3 linked regions of the Homo sapiens genome follow. The protein of the gene in region 1 purifies or fractionates together with the protein of each later gene. This does not show direct contact. Each region holds a gene or a part of one and is shown in the gene's direction. Other genes may lie near its edges.

Region 1 (3,652 bases):
ACTGCAGTGATTTACAGGTCAGGCGCCTGTGGCTCTGGCTCCTGAGGGGGCTGCCCTCACAGGGGACCCTTGGCTGACCCCCTTGGGCTCCTCAGAAGGAGTTGGTTTTGTTTCACATGGCAGAAGCAGACTGTTTACTGGAGCACAGGAAGAATCCGACATTCTGGCGAAAAATAATTCATTAACAGCCAGGGTATTACCAGTTCCCTGGAAAAGCTCCTCCAGCTGCACTGTAGCAACTGTTCTTTTTCAGCAGCAGAATCGGGCCGTGCTGGCAGCCAAGACTGGGTGTGTTTGGGCGTTTTTATTGTTGTTGTTATTTTTGCCTTTGTGTGTATGGCCACTTTTCCCTTATAATTCAGAGAAAGAAATGGAGGCCTGGAAGGGTTGAAATGGTGTAGCTGTCAGCCATTCTTTCCTTCGTGCTTTAAGCCTGGAAGCTCCAGGCTGACTGTATGAACATAGGTTTTTCCTGATCAAAGCCCATCCCCAAAGTGGGGGCACTGCAGAACCACATAGAATGTTCTAGGATGAAAGGAATTTTAGGGAACTGAAACACCTGTTCTTAAGATTCTCTGAAAGCAATTGGCTGAAGAATCCCTCCCCACCCCCGTATGCACAACCAGGCAGAAAGTCCTATCTTGGCCGTGTGGAATTCTTTTGCTTACTATTAATTGGCACAATGGGGCCAAAGTATGTGATTCATCATCCTAGTTTTGAGGGCATTTGGAAAGCCAGGCAAGCATAACCAAGAGAATGGGCTGCATGTTTTGCTCACTAAGGAATGATTGAATCTACAGTAAATACAAGGAAAGATTCAGGAAGCTTTTTGTGCTCTGGAAAAATATGTCTTTTTAAAAAAATAAGGTTTTTGTCTGCCTGTTTGTTTTTTAATGCCTCATGCTCAGAAGTGTGTGCCCAGCTAGCAAAAAACGGGAAAGAATAGCATTTCCTTGTTTTAGTTTTTTTAAAACTCTAATTGCAGTTTAGGTAAGATACAGTGTATTGATTTTGGTTTTGTATGGAACATAACTAGATAATCATTTTATTTTATGAGATATTAATTTCCACCCATTTAGACTGATGAAATATGCATTTAAAATATCCCATACCTACCCCCACCATCATCACAATATTTCTTTAATGTTCCTAGATTCAGATGGAGAACCTATTTCATTTATATGGAAAAGGAGTAAATATGTTAGTCAACATATATGTAAACCTGCCTTAGATTTTGAAAAAAATGGGATCCTTTCCCTTTTTTTAAAAAAAAAATGAATGTTAAAGGCCAAGCATATTTGGCTTTATCTGGAGCATGGTTTCTTCACCTTGGCCCTGTTGACATTTTAGACCAGAGAATTGTTTGTTGCAGGGGACTGTCCCATGCACCTTAAGATGTTCAGCAGTATCCCTGGCCTCCACCCACTAGATACCGTTAACACCACATCCTCCTACCCTAGACCTTGCCAAATGTCCCCTCTGGGACAAAATTAGCCCTGTTGAAGACCACTTGTCTAGACCAAAATTTAATAAGTACTTTGTGTTTTTTTGGAAAATTCCATTTGACATAATAAAAGACACAATTTTCCCCCTCTGACTTTTATAAATACAATTCATGGGCATGATTAATTAACGGTTGGAAGTGGGTCATGTGCGTGATTTAATTCTAAGGTTGGTGGAAGGGTCTATAAGATTGTATAAGCATAGAGACTTTTTCAAGGCAGGCAATTTTATAAGTCATAGGTGATTGGGGGGCACATTGTAAGAACTAGTGGCTTCTCTGGTTTTTCATAAAGAGAACAGGTTTATTCCTCCCTAATTTCTTTTTCATATGCACCTGATTCCAGGCATGACTTCAAAGTCAGCAGGCATCTTCCCCCACCCCCAGCCCCTCCCCACTGTCATTTCTCCGGTAGCATCTTAAGCCCGAGCCAATTGATTTAGCCATTTAGTGTACTTGTGAGAGCTCTGCTCGTAATATTGTAATGGACTCATTTCAGATTGTAGCAGCCCTTTACCCACCACTAAATTCCATGTTTTCCAGTACTATTGAGAGAGAAAGTCAACAGTACTTTCTCGGTAGATGGATCATTTTTCGTAATGATTGAAATTCAGGTAGCCCCCATCACCCCTGGCAATTTTGTTTCCTTTTACACACATTTGTTTCCTTGAAGCAATTCTCCTTCAGGCAGCTAGCACCTGGTAATGCCTACAGGCAGCAACAGCAGATGAAATGTTGCCACCAGGACAAGCCCTCAGCCATATTCTTTCTGGTAGTCCCTTGAAAGGCTAGAAAGGAGGGTCATGCCTTACACAAGGAAGGTGTCATGCGGGCAAACCATGCCCTGCCCATACATGGAAATGGAATGGGTGTTTGGGGGGCAGGGAGAGGGCAGAGAAGTGGATCACTCATTATACAGGGAAAGTGTTCCCCAGTTAGCCCTCCCCTGCCAGCCTCTGAGAGTGATATGGGAGCAGGGGATGCTGGTGAAGGATAGGGGCAGTTGTTCAGTGCAGAAGTCAACATAGGCCACTTCATTTTGCAGCCATCCAAGGTAGGCTGACCTTTTCCAAAGAGTGTCATGTGTAGGATTCCCTTGCATACTAGCCAGTGAGGAAAAATGGAAAGGTGAGCATTGAGGGATTTGGCAAGCCAGCGACACTTCATTGGTGAGTTCCAGCATCTCTTGAAGAGTAGTTGAAGTCTTCCTTGTCGCCATGAAGAGAGAGGCAACAAGCTGGTAGGGATCCACAGTGTGCTGGGCTCAGGCGGATAAATAATTGATTTGTAGCACGTGACACTTGGACATTCTAAGTTGCCAGTCCGTTGCAGGCCAGGATTCAGGTGATGGTTGCAACACTGGGAGAGGAAATAGGATCATAAATCTGGGCGTTGGAGGCCAGTTTCGTGGTGCAGAGGCCACTGGGGCCACCGCTGTGTGTGCAGAAGCAAACAGACAGATCTGAGTGGTATGTTGTTCCTCAAAATAATGGCAATGGAAATGGCTGTGAAAAACATTTAGGAACTTGTCATAAAAATGCAAACAGTCTTCCTTCTATAGGGAAAAGCTAAATAAACCCTATTGCAGCTGTATTAAGTAGAAACAGATTTGAAAATCGGGTGTTTTTTTTGTTTTGTTTTGTTTCTGAGACACTTATTTATAGCAGGTTGGGCAGAGGCTGCCACTATCTTTCGAGACTCCGGAAGAGTGTTTTCCAGATGGTCCTTGCTGTTTTTCTCTTTATTAAGCTTAGCTAAACAGTGCTGTGCTTGGAAAGGGTCATAGAAACCAGTGTTACTTTTTTTCAGATTACAATGGTCATTGATTGGCTAGCAATCAATGGATGGGAATGGATTGAGCCTGTGCCGATGAATTTCCTATTGCATTTTATAAACAAGAAAAATGTCAAGGAAAGCACAGAATAGGGATACTCTTTCGACTATGCACATCAAAGCTTTGAAAACCATACAGAGTTACATTTCCTATTAATTTCCATTTAAATTTTGTTCTAAAATAATGCTCCCCTCTTTGTGAAAGCTCTACAATGTTACCGTTTCCTTTCCAACATCTAAACAATGTCCAGATCCATTTCAGATTGAGCAATTAGCTCTGGATGCAATTTCCTTTTATGAAAAAAAGAATCACTAGCC
Region 2 (3,652 bases), on another chromosome or scaffold:
CACCTGGCAAATTTTTGTATTTTTAGTAGAGACAGGGTTTCACCATCTTGGCCAGACTGATCTCGAACTCCTGGCCTCAAGTGACCCACCCATCTCAGCCTCCCAGAGTGCTGGGATTACAGGTGTGGGCCTCTGCGCCCACCCGGTATGTGCCCTTTAACACACCTCCACAGCAATGCTGCGGTGCACTAGAATTGGAGAAGCCCAGCTATGAAGCTCATCATAAGCTTGGGGTCAGATCTGAGTCCAGCTCCCAGGTTTAGCACTTACCTAGCAAGTCACTTTGTCTCCCTGAGCCTCAGTTTCCCTATCTCCAAAATGAGGTAAAAAGAGGAAACATTTTGTTACAAAAAAAGTACCTTGGGATAGGCAAAGATGCAAGAAACACAAAAAAACTAGCCATAAAAGAAAAAAAATGCTCATTTGAATATAATAAAGATTAACATCTTCTGCTCTTCCCAAAATTTGTTAGAAGAGGCCAATGAGATAAAGCTCAAACAAATTAGCAAAGTGCTATGCATGAAAATGCTCTGTACAAGCTGTTTTGTTTTGTACACTGGCTTGCTTCAAGCAGCAGGAGAGAACAGAAGGAAATAACATGGTTTGTTGTTTATTTTCAGTACATCAAGGCCTTTTACAATGAGTCATGGGAAAGAAGGCATGGACGTCCAATAGACCCAGACACTCTGACTTTGCTCTGGTCTGTGACTGTGTCCATATTCGCCATCGGTGGACTTGTGGGGACGTTAATTGTGAAGATGATTGGAAAGGTTCTTGGGAGGTCAGTAGGAGGCTGTCTCTATCTGGGGGTGCCCTCCATGTTCATAATATATCTGTGTCATTGTCAGGGTCCTGACAGGCAACAGAACTCCACTCAGGCAGTTCAACTGGAGAGATTCAAATGCCCAAAGGGGAAAGGGGAAGAAATCAGAGACCAAGGTCCAAAGATAACTGAAGCCATGGACTGCAGGCTGATGAGCAGCAGCAGAAGCGTATAGGGACTGGGCTGTGTCAGAGCCACAGCACCCACATGGGGGAGGAGCAGGGAAGAAATGCCCTGACCCCTCCCTCCTCCCACCCTCCATCCTGCTGCAGAGGTGCACACTGGTCACACCCATGTGAAAGCCAGTAAACCAGGAAGTCATGTTGCCATCCAGGAGATGCTCCCGGGGCATAGAGCAGAGCAGGGAGGGGAGGGGAATTGATCTGGGTGTTGGGGCAAATGGAAAACACAGTGCAGTGCCTTGGAAATTGTTCCACGTAAGTACATACAGATCTGCTTTTCCAGAAAATTGACTGCTTAGACAGTCTTCCACTATATGGCTGTCTCATCATTTATTTAGCCACACTCCCTGACTGAGAGACATTTAGGTCATTTCAGATCATTTACATTACAAATAAGGAAGCAGTGAGAATCAAAAACTTCATATCAGCCTTTCCTACCCAGGCCCTCTCCAATCAGCTCACTTGACCTTGTGAGCCTCATTCCTCACTTATTTTAGACAGGAATCCTTCTCTCAGAGCAGATTGACTTATCAATGAATCCCCACAAACAATGCTTTCTCTGTATTCTTGTTCATAACAACAGCATCCTGGGAGCCAGTGAGCAGTGTGTGGAAAGAGTAGAGCTTCTCCAAGTGATGGAGGAGTCGTCACATCAATCTGATGGGGCCAGAACATTCGTGTCTTAACTTGAATCATGTGTCTTCCACTTACTAGCTGTGTGCCCTTGGCCAAATCATTTAATTTATTTGAGCCTCAATTTTCTTATCTGTAAAATAGGGATGATAGTTTCTACCTGCAGGGAATGTTACAAGAGTTAGACCAAATGAATGGAAGGAGAATGGCCATGAGTTGTAGCTGAATAAATAAAAATTCTTGTCATTGACCACATTATTTGGCATTTCCCTCATCATCACCTTGACATCACTACCTAGTAAGTACTCGACTAACCTCCTTATTGCATTGACGTGAGTTGAAGAGGAGATTTATCAGACTCCAGAAAATCTCCTCAGACCATGGGATTACAGAAACCCGATTAAGAAGGAGCCCATTTCACAATCTGAAATGACCGAATCCTTTACATTCTTCCTCACAGCCCAACAAGGAGAAAACTAGAGTTGACGATGTTTCAAAGCAAGATTTCTAAAAGATGGGACAGGAAGCCACCCTGAAAACATCCAAGTGGTGCTTATGAGGGTCTGTGATACCTGTGAGGTAGGGGAGGTGCTGACATTTTCCTTGTCCCCAAGCCCACTTTCAGAGCAGTAATTAATGGGAATTCAGGGCCTGGAAATACAACTACTGCATGATGTAGTGAGAGATGCCATTGTCTGAGGTCCTTCAAGGTTCCAGCCACTCACACATTCTCTTGTTTAATTTTCTATCTGCTGTGGGGTCTGTAGATGGGGAATGGGAGGTTAGAGAGGTGAGGGCATCTGCACAAGCTTAGCTAGCTTGCACTGTGGCTGAGCTTAGGCTGGAATCATGATCTTTCCACTATGCCAAGCAGATCTTAGTTAGGGGCCAATTCCCAATGCTGGGAATGTACTGTAAAACCATGACTGTTTGACAACAGGCTGGCACTCAGATTGGCATCACTGGCCAGGGTCCCTGAGGCATGGTCACTAAGCCTCCTGCCCAAGCCAGACCCTGCCCATGGTCCTCTTGCTTGTCCTAGTGGGATGGAGTCACTCCCCATGCCCCAGGATCTGGCCTGTGATGTCTCCTTGCTTTATACCTGACCGTGGCATTTATACCCCAAGGCTGCTCCTCAAGGAGGCTCTGAACCCATGCAGATGGAATAGGAAAAGGAACACTAGAATCGGGTCAGAATGCCGTGGCTCAGCAAGTCCTGACTCTGCTGTGTATCAGGTGTGTTACAAGGGACTTTGACACCTCACTTCTCAGCCAGCATTATTCTTACCTATAAAATGAGGGCAATGAAAGTAGCTTTACTACCCTCACTGGCATGGCAACAAAAAAAAAAAAAAAAAAGGAAAAGGAAAGCAAAAGAGAAAACAACTTTGAAAATACCTTCAATCTCTAAGTAATGGAGGAGTCATAAAGAAGTGAGGATGCAGAAAAAGATCAGATCAAAGGATGTGTTGGTTGTTATGCCCCAAGCAGCTGCCAGTTTCCTTTTCATCATTATGAGAGTAAAAGTTGATTTGGGCTGAAGTTTCAGCTTGAAGAGCAACTCTGCTGGGGAGAAAAGGAGCAAAAATTGAAAAAGAAAGCTACCATCTATTGACCTCCTGCCTTGTCCTTGACATCCCATATATCATTTACTTCTTAAAACTCCATGTTTGCATCATTACCTGCACTTTTCAAATGATGAGTCCAAGACCCAGTGGTCAATTGGACCAAGGTTTCAAAATGGAGTTGAACTGAAGTTCAGATCTGCATGTGTTTGACCACAGGCCAACACTCTTCCTGTGACATGATGCTATTTGAAACGCCTTCCTGATGCTCTGTTATTCCTCTCCCATGGGGATTCTCAGGGAGGGAGAGGAAACTGCAATGGCAGCCTGGGAGGCCCAGTGGAAGGTGCTCAAAGGTATAGCTGGGGGAGACATTCCAGGGAAGTGGGGAAGAGTTCCGATGGGGCTGGTCACTGGCTGCTCCAGCAGTGGGGCTGTTCCTAGCTAGG
Region 3 (4,247 bases), on another chromosome or scaffold:
AAAATTAACCCTCAGAATGTTTAATTCTAATTGAAGTTTACATGGTTTTTATTTTAAGATGAAATTCAAGGAGCAGACCATTACCAAATAAACACTGGAGTAATAGAAATATATTTTAGATATTGCTATTTGTTAATGAAATAAATGGTACTCAGATACTTTTTTTAAAGTTTTAAAGTTTTATAAAATTTTATAAAATTCAGAAAACCAAGCATATAGCTTAATATTTTCTCAATAATCTTTATATTAAGGCACATTTGCCATTTTCTGAATTGACCATAATACATCCCATTTATTAAAATATTTGTTAGTTTTGTTAACAGAAAGATGAGGAAGTTTGACTTTTGAGAATATACTTGATTTTGAGAATATACTTGATCAGTTAAAGTTAAAAATGGAGAAAAGTTAATTTATTGGGTTTTTTTGTATTTACATAAGATGCAATCTCATTCCTAAAGTCAGAGGTGTATTAGGGCCAAAAAATGTTCTCCGATCATGTTCCAATGTTGTATTGTGGGCAAAGAAGACCACCTAGCCAGTAGCTTGTTGTGTTTAGTTAGCTAACCCTTGGCAAATTCAGGAGTCCCACAGTCACTTTTCTACATACGGTGGCACCCTTCTTATGGATTAGAGCTCTTTTTTTAAAAAAAATTGTGTTTTGAAAAAAATTAAATAATAGTTGCAAGAATAAGTCAGTGAACTTTAACATACCCTTTATCTAGATTCCATTCACCAGTTGTTAACATTTTGCTACATTCTCTTTACCACTCAACATGATAGTATTGTTTTATTTTTGCTCAACAATTTGAGAATAGGTTGCAGACATCTTGAACCTTTCTTCTAAATGGTAGCATACATGTCCTGGAAACAGACATACTCTTACCTAGTCATAGTACAATGATCAAATTCAAGAAGTTAAACTTTGGTACAATAGTATTATCTAATTTACAGTCCATATTAAAATGTTTTCTGATTGTCCCAGCAGTGTCTTTATAGTGACTTTTTTCCCCAAACACAAGATCATGCATTGCATTTAGTTGTCATGTAAGTTTTGTTGCGTTTAGAACATGTCACTTCTGTCCAGAAATAGAGGTAGTCTTCTGACTCTTACCTCTCACAAGCTTTGTTGAAGAAAAAGGACATTAGGAATTTCAAAGAGGCTGCTTAAAAAAAAAAAGAGAGACTCTTTTGTTCTTAATTTTTACAACTTTGTCTGGGTTTTGGTTTCTTGACTCAGCAAAGTCTGTAATGCAGCCCTGCTTGGTAAGCATTAAAGGCGGTACTGAAGCTTTCCTTTATTTTATAATCCCAGTTGTTTTTTCTAGAAACCATCAATAGCGTCTAAATGACTGACTCAATTTTTGGATCCTATTCTCATGACTAAGCAAATGTTTGACTGAAACCAGCCCATATAAATGTCACTGTGCCTCTAACTCTCTGTAGCCATTCCTGAATTTCTTTCAGCACTGGGAAAACCAGTCTATGCACCAAAAATGTCTAAAACTGGAACCAAGGTAAGTAGTCATATTGATTTTTAGCCTACCCGCTTTTCACCTAATGATGCATTCAACACACAGAAAAGCTTTTGCTTCTTTGCCTAGAGGTGAGTATGATAGTGGTTAGAGAACTGGGATTGAGAGAGAAGATTAAGAAATGCTTATTATATTTTCCACCCTTAACAGAATTACCGAACACTTTATTAAGGGTTTATCTTTATGTATGGTGCTATGTTAAATACTATACAGGTAATTTATAAATATCATTATTATTTCTGCCTTCTAGCAACTAATATTCTATGCAACTGATATTCTCCATAGGAATAAGGCATGCTAATGGGGATTATATTGAGCAGAAAACTTTTAATAATCAATTAAAATTTTGTTTTCTGAAATTTAGCCTCAACCATTTGTGTTCTAAAAGGCCAAAGTGGATGGGCCAATCAGGTGAATAAAGTCCTACATCTCTCTTCCATTCAAGCAATTATTTTTACTCGTTCCTCAAATAAAGTGCTCCCTTACAGTCAGAAAATTGCCTCTAAAATATTTAACTCACAATTACTGGATTGGAAATTATTCTTTCAGGTAGGGCTTTGGGAATGAGGGAATATGCTTTCATTTTCTTTTTTGCGCTTCCACTGATGAGACAAAACTGCTGCCTGATTTTTACCCCCAGCTATTTGAAAATTTTCAAACCCATTGAATCCTCAAAGAATGGCAAAGAAATGTTGAATGAATATTTGTATATCTTTCACTTATATTCTCCAGTTGTTGACATTTTGCCATATTTGGTCTCTCCTATTTCCATCTCTCTTTATTAAACCATTTGAAAATTAGTAGCAGATTTTATTATACTTTTGCCTTAAGTATTTAGGCATGTATCTCCTAAAAACAAGGGCATTTCCCTGTATAAACACTGTATCACTAGCATGTCCCCAAGAGTTATCATAAATATAATAGCTAATATTGAGACCATATTCAAATCTCCCCTGATTGTCCCCAGAAAAGTGCTTCATGGTGGACTTTTCCCCTAATACAGGATCCAGTGAAAAACATGTATTGTAATTGGTTGTCATGTCTCTTTATTCTCTTTAGTTTTTTTTAGCCTCTCTAAAAATGTCCCTCTACCCTTTTTGTTGTTGTTCTTGAGACATTTTTCAAAGCCTAGGTTAGATGTCTTTTAGAAAGTCTTGCAATCTAGATTTGTCTAATTGTTTCCTCATGTTTAGATTCAGAATAAATATATTTGGCAAGAAAGCTACATAGGCAATGTTGTGTACTTCCTGTTGCATCAGGTCAGAAGGTACCTGTTAACTTGTTCTGTAATTTATTAGTGCTTGATTTTTTTTTCATTGGAAAATAGAACTAATAATCATGCTTGTCATTCAGGAGGTTTGGGGAGAAAAATTAGTGTCTTCAGTGCTCTGAGGTTCTTGAAAATATACCATGCAAATCCCACTAAAAAAGAATTTTTGGTCCTTAGAGGAGGGATATCCATGTATCTTGAGGTAAAGCTGTTCTACAACCATCTTAGATGAAAACATCTGCTTTTAAAGATTTGCAGAGTAGTAATAGTGTACTCTTTTTTATTTATAGATGAGTCGTTCATTTAGTTAAATAACTTTTGCTTGCTAGGGTAAAGGAGATAGTAAATTATTTCTTACTTTTTCTCATTGCTTCTTCCTTTCCCACTATCTTGATAGCAGTTTAATCAGAGGAGTTATGGGCTTGGCAAAAGGAATAGATTTTACTAAGTATGTTTTCATTACTTCTGGGATACTCAAGATATTTTTCTCTCTGCTGCATTGGATTAGTAGGCCATTTTTCCAAAAATAAACCTGATAATGATAGGAATTTTGTAATAATTTCTAGGAAAACTTTCTGCACATTTCTTTAGCCTTCTCTACAAAATATTTTGCCCAAAGGTCAAAACCTCTAGGCTGACAATAGCATGGATTTCATGGTTATTCTACAAAAAGAAATTGAGCACAGCTAGGTGCAACATTCTCTGGCTCTGAGATATAGAAGGTCTCCCACTGAAAGGAGAGCTTAGTCTTGGAGCTCAGTAATGATTCCATAGCAACAGGATGAGGGCTTTGTTTCAACTTTTGGATGGTTGGCTGGTCTCCTGGGAGGGTGGACATCAGGTGACCGTATCAGGCATCATGTATCTTTTTACTTAGCAGATATTGATAATTAGTCACGCAAATGTGCAGAAGGCAGTAAATGTGAGAAACTATGAAGTGAAATAGATGGTATTATTAACTTCATTTCCCATAGGATATCTTTTGCAAAGGCTCTTTTTAGTGACTTGTTTGGTCAAAAACCAAAGGCAAATAGAACATATGAATTAAGGAGTTTAGAATCTATCCATTCTTAGAGAAGTTATTTGACTTTCCTAAAGATCTCTCCACAGGTCATGAGGAAGAGCCCCTGAGGCTTAGGCCCAGCCTTGGTCATTGTCCAAGAGAGTAAGTGCTGCCATGTTAAACGAAGCTAACTGGGCAGGCAGAAAGACAGCAAAGGAAAATAAAGTGAACAATAGTTTACTCACCAGGAGTTTTGCACTGCAGCCCACCAGCTTGTCTGCAACTAACTTGTAACTAGGTAGTGACATTAGGCCAATCACTTAACTTCTTCATCTGTAAAAACTGTAGCAAAAGCTTATTGCTAATCATGAGTCAGCTATTCAACTAAGTACTTTATCAACATCCCCTTGGACCCTCAGAGCATACCGTCTGCAAGAGACAC

Evidence for each region.
Region 2: the proteins of RAI2 (region 1) and SLC2A9 purify together in Homo sapiens (affinity purification with mass spectrometry; one large-scale study listed by BioGRID and IntAct). This does not show direct contact.
Region 3: the proteins of RAI2 (region 1) and CRYGS purify together in Homo sapiens (affinity purification with mass spectrometry; one large-scale study listed by BioGRID and IntAct). This does not show direct contact.

What each region holds. Positions count from the first base shown.
Region 1 is NC_000023.11:17,851,290-17,854,941, reverse strand, and holds part of RAI2 (retinoic acid-induced protein 2), read left to right. Parts: intron 1-3,652.
Region 2 is NC_000004.12:9,993,910-9,997,561, reverse strand, and holds part of SLC2A9 (solute carrier family 2, facilitated glucose transporter member 9), read left to right. Parts: intron 1-620; coding exon 621-781; intron 782-3,036; exon of another isoform or gene 3,037-3,201; intron 3,202-3,652. UniProt on the Homo sapiens protein: High-capacity urate transporter, which may play a role in the urate reabsorption by proximal tubules. May have a residual high-affinity, low-capacity glucose and fructose transporter activity. Transports urate at rates 45- to 60-fold faster than glucose.
Region 3 is NC_000003.12:186,541,573-186,545,819, reverse strand, and holds the start of CRYGS (gamma-crystallin S), read left to right. Parts: upstream 1-1,439; 5' UTR 1,440-1,493; coding exon 1,494-1,514; intron 1,515-4,247. UniProt on the Homo sapiens protein: Crystallins are the dominant structural components of the vertebrate eye lens.